Linked DNA regions of Homo sapiens: region 1 is linked to region 2. The links come from fine-mapping of genetic effects on gene expression. A gene starts in region 2. The other region holds a variant in brackets. All regions are shown on one strand. Distances are between the middles of the regions.

The links. PIP is the estimated chance that this variant, and not a neighbour inherited with it, causes the effect.
Region 1: its variant is the best candidate, but not a certain one, in a credible set for the expression of OSTN in sun-exposed skin (GTEx, PIP 0.89).

What each region holds. Positions count from the first base shown.
Region 1 is chr3:190,962,794-190,968,185 of GRCh38, forward strand. No RefSeq gene overlaps it. Among named protein-coding and RNA genes, the nearest start is that of SNAR-I, 88 kb to the left of the region's middle. The variant G/A (reference allele first, on the strand shown) is at 2,739.
Region 2 is chr3:191,196,642-191,202,033 of GRCh38, forward strand. OSTN (osteocrin) reads left to right here and starts at 2,600. Exons shown (of 5, transcript NM_198184.2): 1 at 2,600-2,666.

The DNA of each region.
Region 1 (5,392 bases), 230 kb before region 2:
CTCTCATGGAGAACCTATGCTAGGGCAGTGTGGAAGGGAAATGTGGGGTCAGAGCCCCCATACAGTGTTCCTACTTGGGCACCACCTAGTGGAGCTGTGAGAAGAGGGCCACCATCCTTCAGACCCCAGAATGGTAGATCCACTGACAACTTGCACCATGCACCCGTAAAAGCAGCAGACACCTAATGCCGGCCCATGAAAGAAGGCTGTCAGGAGGGAGGCTGTACCCTGCAAAGCCACAGGGGTGGAGCTGCCCAAGACCATGGGAACCCATCTCTTCAATCAACATGACCTGGATATGAGACAGGAAGTCAAGGGAGATCATTTTGGAGCTTTAATATTTAACTGCCCCACTGGATTTCAGACTTGCATGGGGCCTCTAGCCCCTTGTTTTGGCCAATGTCTCCCATTTGGAATGGGTGTATTTACCCAATCCCTGGACCCGCATTGTATCTAGGAAATAACTAACTTGCTTTTGATTTTACAGGCTTATAGGCAGAAGGGACTTGCCTTGTCTCAAATAAGACTTTGGACTGTGGATTTCTGAGATAATGCTGAAATGAGTTGAGACTTTGGGGAACTGTTAGGAGAGCATGATTCGTTTTGAAATGTGAGGACATGAGATTTTGGGGGAGACAGGGGTGGAAATTATATGGTTTGGCTGTGTCTCTACCCAAATCTCATCTTGTATTGTAACTCCCACAATTCTCACATGATGTGAGAGGAAGCTGGTGGGACGTAATTGAATCATGGGGGCGAGTTTTTCCCATGTTGTTCTCATGATAGTGAATAAGTATCATGAGATCTGATGGTTTTAAAAATGGGAGTTTCCTTGCACAGAGCTCTCATCTCTTGTCTGCCACCACGTGAGACATGCCTTTCAACTTTTGTCATGATTTTGAGGCCTCCTCAGCCACGTGGAACTGAGAGGCTATTAAAACCTCTTTTTCTTCCCAGTCTCAGGTATGTCTATATCAGCAGCATGAAAACGGACTATTACACTGATCCTGTTAAGGTGGTGGCCAAAATACTGTGCTCTGCTTTCTGTGGAAGCGTGATCTCTAAGAAGACCCCAAGACCAGAAGTTGTAATTTATTTATAAGTAATTACTTGTGTGAAGTATTATGGGCTCTTTTCTAAAGAGGAACTTTGAAAAATGAATAGTAAGTACCATAAGTGTTGCTTCCTTGCTACTGCTCTCCAGAGGGTACTGCTCTCCAGAGGGTACTGCTGAGCGTGTGAAGCAGGGAAGAGCATTGTTTGGATTGCAGATGCCCTCCTGTCACTGAATGTGGTAATTTCACAATCAAGAAAAAAGACTACAGTTCTTTACTGACTTAGGCTGGCATCTCAAGAGGTAGATAGAGGTATAAGGAGTGAGAGCAATATTTAGCTGTCTTTTTTTCTTGTTTCAGAAAGCACTCTTGTATAATTGTATAAACAAACATTTTACCCAGAACGTGATACTAAAATAAGTTACATTGGAAGATATCTTTAATTTCGTTGTAAAATTGAAATTAAAATTACTTTCAGCCATTTCTGGATGGGTTGCTAAGCATCACACAAGTTCCTTACTTTTATTTATTATCACAAAGTTCTTCAGTTTTTATCTAAACTTCTCCATATAATTATCCATTGAACAAATGCAGAATTCATATTCTTTTCAAGTGCACATAAAATATTCACCAAAAAAGACCAAAAGAGAATAAATTTAAAAAAATTAAAATCACATAGGATATATTTTCTGACCAAAATGTAGTCAAAGTTAAATTAATAGGAAAAACATTTTTAAAAATTATTCTCAAACTTTAAAAATTAGAAAATAAAATATTTAGAACTGAGTGAAAATGAAAACCACCTTTGGTGTTTGATGATGGTGATGTACAGATGGGTTTTTGGTGTGGATGTCCTTTCTGTTTGTTAGTTTTCCTTCTAACAGACAGGACCCTCAGCTGCAGGTCTGTTGGAGTACCCCGCCCTGTGAGGTGTCAGTGTGCCCCTACTCGGGGGTGCCTCCCAGTTAGGCTGCTCGGGGGTCAGGGGTCAGGGGTCAGGGACCCACTTGAGGCAGTCTGCCCGTTCTCAGATCTCCAGCTGCGTGCTGGGAGAACCACTGCTCTCTTCAAAGCTGTCAGGGACATTTAAGTCTGCAGAGGTTACTGCTGTCTTTTTGTTTGTCTGTGCCCCGCCCCCAGAGGTGGAGCCTACAGAGGCAGGCAGGCCTCCTTGAGCTGTGGTGGGCTCCACCCAGTTCGAGCTTCTGGGCTGCTTTGTTTACCTAATCAAGCCCCGGCAATGGCGGGCGCCCCTCCCCCAGCCTCGCTGCCGCCTTGCAGTTTGATCTCAGACCGCTGTGCTAGCAATCAGCGAGACTCCGTGGGGTAGGACCCTCCGAGCCAGGTGCCGGATATAATCTCCTGGTGTGGGTGCGCCGTTTTTGAAGCCCGTCGGAAAAGCGCAATATTCGGGTGGGAGTGACCCGATTTTCCAGGTGCGTCTGTCACCCCTGTCTTTGACTAGGAAAGGGAACTCCCTGACCCCTTGCGCTTCCCGAGTGAGGAAATGCCTCTCCCTGCTTCGGCTCGTGCACGGTGCGCGCACCCACTGACCTGCGCCCACTGTCTGGCACTCCCCAGTGAGATGAACCCGGTACCTCAGATGGAAATGCAGAAATCACCCGCCTTCTGCGTCGCTCATGCTGGGAGCTGTAGACCGGAGCTGTTCCTATTCGGCCAAAC[G/A]TATGTTTATTGCGGCACTATTCACAATAGCAAAGACTTGGAACCAACCCAAATGTCCAACAATGATAGACTGGATTAAGAAAATGTGGCACATATACACCATGGAATACTATGCAGCCATAAAAAATGATGAGTTCATGTCCTTTGTAGGGACATGGATGAAATTGGAAATCATCATTCTCAGTAAACTATCACAAGAACAAAAAAACAAACACCGCATATTCTCACTCATAGGTGGGAACTGAACAATGAGAACACATGGACACAGGAAGGGGAACATCACACTCTGGGGACTGTTGTGGGGTGGGGGACGGGGGAGGGATAGCGTTGGGAGATATACCTAATGCTAGATGACGAGTTAGTGGGTGCAGCGCACCAGCATGGCACATGTATACATATGTAACTAACCTGCACATTGTGCACATGTACCCTAAAACTTAAAGTATAATAATAATAAATAAAAAAGAAAACCACCTAGCAGAGGAAAAATGTTAGAAAATCAATGATCTAAGCTTTCACCTTAAACAGTTAGATGAAAAGCTAATTAAATTTTGAAAAATTATTCTCAAACTTTAAAAATTAGAAAATATTTAGAACTGAGTGAAAATGAAAACCACCTAGCAGAGGAAAAATGTTAGAAAATCAATGATCTAAGCTTTCACCTTAAACAGTTAGATGAAAAGCTAATTAAAACCAAAGGTGAGGCCGGGCGCGGCGGCTCACGCCTGTAATCCCAGCACTTTGGGAGGTCGAGGTGGGCGGATCACAAGGTCAGGAGATCGAGATCATCCTGGCTAACACGGTGAAACCCTGTCTCTACTAAAAATACAAAAAATTAGCCGGGCGTGGTGGCGGGCGCCTGTAGTCCCAGCTACTCAGGAGGCTGAGGCAGGAGAATGGCATGAACCCGGGAGGTGGAGCTGGCAGTGAGCTGAGATTGCGCCACTGCACTCTAGCCTGGGCAACAGAGCGAGACTCCGTCTCAAAAAAAAAAAAAAAACCAAAGGTGAATAGAAGAAATGATAAAATAAGAGTATAAATTATTAAAATAGAATCTGAAGAAAATTTAATAAAACAAATGCTGATTTTTAAAGGTATCTACAATTGATATATTTTTAGGGAGACTGATTAAGAAAAATAGAGAAACTCAAATTACTAATATTAGGTCTGACATACCTAGTATCATAGGGATATTACTATGATTTTCAGACATTGAAAGGACAGCAAGATATTATGAACATTGTGCCAATAGATTTGACAGATTAAATGAAATGAATGAATACTTTGAAGAAACAGAAAGAATTACAAAAAACTATGCTGTCCAATATCAATTAAAGAAATTGAGGTCAAACTTGTTCTTCCTTGTTTGTGGGAGCTAAGGAAAACTGAGAAGTAGAATTGTGGTTATTAGAGGGTGGGAAGGATAGAAGGAGGGGATGATGGGAAGAGGTCAATTAACAGTTACACCTAGATGAGAGGAATAAGTTCTAGTGTTCTGTAGCACTATAGAGTGAATATGATTAACAACAATTTAGTGTATATGTGTTAAGCCATTCTCATGTTGCTATAAAGAAACACCTGATGCTGTGTCATTTATGAAGAAAAGAGATTAAATTGGCTCATGGTTCTGCAGGCTATTTAGGAAGCATGGCATTGGCATATGCTTGGCCTCTGGGGAGGCCTCAGGGAACTGTTGCTCATGGCAGAAGGCAAAGCAGGAATAGGCACATCATACGTCAAGATTGGGACCAAGAGATGTAGGGGAAGGTGCTGCACACTTTTCAAAACCAGATTTTGTGTGAACTCAGAGTGAGAGCTCACTTATCCCCAAGGGGATGATGTCAACCATTCATGAGGGATCTGCCCCTGTGATCCAAATACCTCTCAGCAGGCCCCACCTCCAATACTGGAGACCACATTTCAACATGAGATTTGGAGAGGATACATATTCAAACCATATTAATATATTTTCAAAAGCTAGAAGAGAGGATTTTGAATGCTCACAATACGAAGAAATAACAAATGTTCAAGGTGAGGGTTATGCCAATTACCCTGATTTGATTATTATACATTGTATACATGTATGGAAATATCACTCTGTATCTCATAAATAGGAATAATTTTTAAGTTTTAACTTAAAAAGGGGAGAAAAGATATTGTACTCATAATAAAAATACATTCAGGGCCCAAATGGCATCATTGATGAATCCTATTGACCTGCCAAGGTAGAAATGAGTGTCCTTTCAGAAAATAGAGAAGGAGTGGAAACCTCTCATCATTTTATCATCTCTTGCTATCAAAACAAGACAAAGATATCAATATAAAAGAAAACTACAAACTAATATTCCAAAGGAAATAAATAGGATAAGTGAGATTATCTACAAAAATGCAAGAGTTAACATTAAAGAAATAAATTAATGTAATTGAACATATTGATGGATTAAAGGGAAAAAACATAGTATTATCTCAGTATATGCAACTATTATCTCACATATTTCTAGTAGGAATGTAAAATTAACCACTTCGGAAAACAGTTTAGCAATTACTTTATAAAGTTAGAAATACATCTACATAGGACTCAGTGGTTACATTCCTAGATTTTTACCCAAGAAAAATGAAAATATATGTCTCCTCAAAGACTGATACACACATGT
Region 2 (5,392 bases):
GAAGATACATAGCATCTGCATTTGTCAAAACTCGTCAAACTCTACAGTTTAAAAGAGTAAATGTTGTGTATGTAAATTTTACCTCAACAAACCTGACTTGAAAAAAACAGCAGGAAATATTAGACAACAATGTGAATAACAGTGGCATTTGCAGTCATGTTGGTCTTTACAAAGGACCCAATTTGTGTTTCTCGGAGCACAGTTTTGAGGTTAAATGATGTACTGGGTCCCTTTTATCTCCCCTCTTTCAATCTCTTTTCCAGTTTGGTTTCAGCAAAGGGAAACACCACAGGAGACTGAAGAAAAGAAGTAGAGTGAAATCTGGTGCTTATTTCATAGGTTCCATGCCCTCTGGTTTGCTCTTGACTTGCCATGTCCTTTTGTGAAATGTCACACTTCTGCCAGACAACTTTCTCTACTCAGGATCCCTTTGTCTCTGCGTCCCTGTAACTATCCTTGACTCTTCAGGACTAGGGTTTACTATACCACATGATCCCTTCTGGTTCTTCTACACGATGTTCACATCTCATTCTCTTCAAATTACTCAATTTGAATGTGCCATCTCTTTTCTGCCAGATTCTGACAGATACAGATAATAAGGTTCAACCCTTTGTCTTGTCACTTCTAAGCTAAGAAGATTTGGGCCACCCATTTTACAGATTTGAGCTTTAGTTTTCTATTCATTATATTTGAAAAAGTATACTTCCTTGGCAAGGTTGTTATGGGAATTAAATCATGACACGCTAGCTGAAAAAGTTTTCATTAATATTTTCTCCCTTTCTCATCTTAGACTCTCCCCATCCAACACTGAATATTTATTCTCTTTATCTTTTTATTTCTTTGCATGTTCCCATTTTTCCTCTCTCTTTTGAAGGTAATGGAATTTTTCTATCATGTGTAAATGCATAAGTAAATCATATAGAGGTGTATAATATACAGAAGGCTGTAAAAATGGCTTAAATGTACCATGGATGTTCCTGGAATAAACTGTTGCTATTTCAACTGCTGCAGAACAGTTAAGTCAAACTTTTGAATTAGGTCAACAAAATCCACAAATAGGGAGGAATCTTTGGACTGTCTAAGCAGGGACAGATCTGGAATAAATCAGCCACAGATATCACTTGTCGGCATGCTAAGAGCGGCATTTCAAATAAGGGTAGAAGGTATGCCAATAATATTGGCTTCTGGTAGCATTATGATGCATCCATTAATTCTATATTGAGAGTTTTCCATCATGTGGATTCAAGCTAACATAATTGTTTTATGGCAGTAATGTCTAAACAAGGGTCCACAATTAGGCTGTATTTTTATCTTGATTTGTGAACTGTCTCTGCCAACTACTCAAATTTCAAGCTTGTTGAGACATATGTTATCCCTGGAAACCCATCATAAAAATGAAGCATTTTACTGTCCCACTAATTCTGTGTGCTCTGGTCAGTTTCCCCATCTAGATCCAAATTAACCATGTAATTGTCCTTATACTAGTGACTAGTATTTTAAATGGCCTTTTTAGGGAAACCAAAAAGAATAAATTTATTGCTTTTTGTGCAAAAATATAATCTGGTTTGGATTCTCTTTTCTAGCTTTTAAAGCAGTGAGATAGAATGCAGTCGTGGGAAAAGAACTGGATATGGAATTAGGAAGATCTGCATTTGAAATCCAGCTCTGCGACTACTTCTTACGTGTGTGATCTCATAAAGTCACTTAATTTATCTGAGCCTTGGCCTCTTTACCTGTCAGATGGGGACCCTCTGGTGAATCAAATGAGCCATTAACGATCTAATAACATAACATGTTACCTTTATAACTTAATAATTCATTTAAAAAATAATTTGTGTATGTAAGGATGCAAATATAATTAGTAGGAGATAAGAATGAAAGAAAACCTTCAGCCAAAGGCAGAAATATTTTGGTTAAAAAGAAATCAAAGTACTGAAGAACAAGAGCAAGACAAAAATGATTACAACGTCTTCATTTATAGCTCACATGTCACAGCTCAGTATTTATAGGTTTGTTAGTGACAGCCTTCCCAGTATAGCAATGTTAATTACGAAGTAGCTGTCATTGTGTTTCACTGACACAGCACTGTGCACCTGACGGAGGCTGAAAGTACTCATTATTTCCATAGCTGATCATTTAAAGGTCCAAAAATTACACCAATAAATCCGTTTGTGTCTGATTACAATCTCTCTATATCGTACATTGAAATTCCCTGGTGACTTTTTAACAAATCTTAGTGCATTTTATTTCCCAAATATGATTTGTAATAATCAGAGCTTGACTAAAACCTCAGGAAGAGGTGATGGGTGTGAAGCTGAACACAATACTAAATCTATATTCAAATTTTCCAGAGCCTATACTTCCATCGTTATTTAAATGCCATGATCAAAGCAATAGATAGACTAAATATGGAGGGAAAGGAGGGAGGGAGAAACTGAAGAAGGAAGGGAGAGGGAGGGAGAGAAAGAGATCGAAGAGAGGCTTGGGAAAATGTTCAGTGGAAAATCTGTAGAAATGATGTAAGAGAAAGCAAAGGCAGGGATTGGAGTAAGGGGTGTATAACTGAGACTATAAAAACTCAGAGAGAAAACTCACCACCAGGGCTGAGTTTTGGAGAAACTGCAGAGACAGTACTCTAAAGTTAGAATCTCCTGATCTTTCACGAGGTAAGTTATATGTAAAAATTGATAAAGATTTAATGCTTCTTTTAACTATTATTTTTACTTTCACAGACTCTTTAAATGTTTTGATTATATCTTGATTTTGTTAAAATTAGAGTGGTAATATTTCCCTCTCTAAAATGAGTAGAAAATCAAAGATATTTTTGTAATGCAAACTTAAGGTAGAACTAATTGCTTATTCAGATATTTCATATTTATAAGATTGCTTTTCTCTTCCATTTCAAAACAAACAGAAAGTGAATGCAAAATAATAATTCTATACATATATATGTTATTAGCGTTATTTTGCTTTCCTCAAAATTGTGTAATATTAGAAAAATGTTTAATATAAAAGAGTGGTCTAAACAACCTAGGTAAAAAAGAAAGGTTTTTTCCTCATTATTTCTATCAAAACTGGAGCTTAAGAAACATCCCTAAACTAATGAAATTCTATCTCTTATGTTCTTAAAACCTAATGCATCTTCTGTTTTTCTCCTTATATGTCAAATATGCAAATATGATATTAATAACATAGTTGGAGTAGACTTAGAGTATGCCTGTTCTTCAGTATTTGTAGTGCTCTTGCTATTCAATGATTGAATTGAGAGTTAATCTGAAACATACATTTGAGCTCTGTTGGAGAAGAAATTTAAAATTTTATTTCAGGTTTAGTGTGCACTCAGTGAATTCAGTTCTAACAATTCAAATGTTGTTTCTTTGAATAACAGACTCTATAGGTTTAGGAATGTGATTATTATTTGTTTATGAGTTTTCCTTCTAAAAATTTAACATTTTTGAGAATGAATTATGGTAATTTTAATGCCTATATAAGTTATAGAATTGATAGTGTTATACCAAAAACACCAGGGACATTCTGTGTTTTCTCTTACTTTGGTACTACTCTTCAGCACGCTTACAGAACTTTTCTAAGGAGCACTTTCTGTAGATAACAGTTCAGGTCTCCTTCATGTCAGTGAATTTTACTATGGCTTCATTCAAAAATTATTCAGAGTGTTTAAGGTTGACATTTGCTTTCTCCCCCTTATTTCTCAGGATTTTTAACTGATTCTTATATACTGAATAATGAGCAGTAGAGAAGCAGATATCTTCAGTTGACTGGGCACGGGAACCTCAGGGCTATAATTTTAACTTCTTTTACAAATACTCTCAATGATTTGAACATTTGATTAATAAAATTAGATTAATTGAACTTGTCTCAAAAATAAAGAACTCGAAGTAAGAAATCCTAATATATCATTCTAGCTCTGCTATAATCCACCTATACAACTGCAGGCAAGCCTTAAGCACGAATTAAGGCTTGATAATATTGTATTTTGTCCTTGTGAAAAGGACAAAAAAAAATAGAAGTGCTAGGGATACTGAGTATAAAAATATTTGAGGAAGCCCCCATGTCAGTCAATTTTCCCTATATTAGAGAATAAAACCTCAGTATCACAGAAGTTTAGGACTAATCTTTAGAGCTAATTTAACTGCTTTGCCAATATTTCATTTACTATGACTGTTACCTACCAGACAACTTTTGCTTAGATTCAATAGTTCAGTCAGAGAAATACAAGCTTTGGAGGCAGAAAACTAGACTTCTAATTCTAGTTCTGACTTCGACAGCTTTATGGACAAACCATTCAGCTTCCCTGAAGCTTTATTCTCCTCCCCTCAGGAGCTTGTGGGGATACAACAAGTAAGCTACAACAAGGTGCTAACTCTGGGTATCTCTCTTAAATGAACCAACTCTCCAAATGGCTTAAGATCTCTCAGATTAAAGGCTTCATTTTTTATTTATTTATTTATTTTTTTTAGCTAGCTCTTTCTCTTCTTTCTTCAGATAAGTGTCACGGTACATCCCTGGAGCAGTGATGCCTTCTTCCTTATTGCCACTCCATCAGCTCAGACCTTAATACAAACCATCTCCTCCCTCCAGTAACAATGCCTCTGCCACCACCTTCTGCTCTCTCTTCCTCTTCAACAATTTCTATATTATTATCTTCTTTCCCCTCCTTTGAGCAGGTTCATTCTCTCTGAGCCTCACTTTCTCCATCTATTAATTGTGGATATTAAATTTGACAATTTTTAATGATTGCTTCCTCTGTTTCTAAAATTCTATATTCCCAGGGTACCTAAGGCTATAAATATGTGAAAATTCCACTTTTAAAATATTATATAAAATGGTATTAAAAGTTCACTTTAGGTGGCACAATTAGAGCTAGAAGAATAATGATGCCTTCAGTACAGCTGAGCTTTCTTTTGTTTCTTTCCCAGGATTACATTTTTTATAGTTGGAAGCAATTTTTATAGAAATATTATGACTCAAAATAATGATAATGCACCAAATGTTAGAGTGATTTCTATTTATAACTCTCTAGAGTGAAATTTTCTTCCCCCATTCAATATTATTTTTCTTACTATATTTTCTATCACTCTGCCTTAATTCTAGATTTTGAGGAATAATTTTGTTCGTTAAAATGAAGGATAAAAATATTTTTTCATAAAAATTAAAAAGTAGTAAAAACATTTTGAAAAGTTGCCATATTTCAAAGGCAATATCAGGATAATGATAACTGTTATTTATTGAGTAACTAATTTATGCCTGCTGATTTACCCAGATTACTTCTGATCTTCATACTAAGCCTACAAATTAGGTCTTTGCCCTATTTTTCTGAAGGAGAAGTTAAAACAAAAAGGCTAAATGACATGCCTAATCAGGATTCAGATCC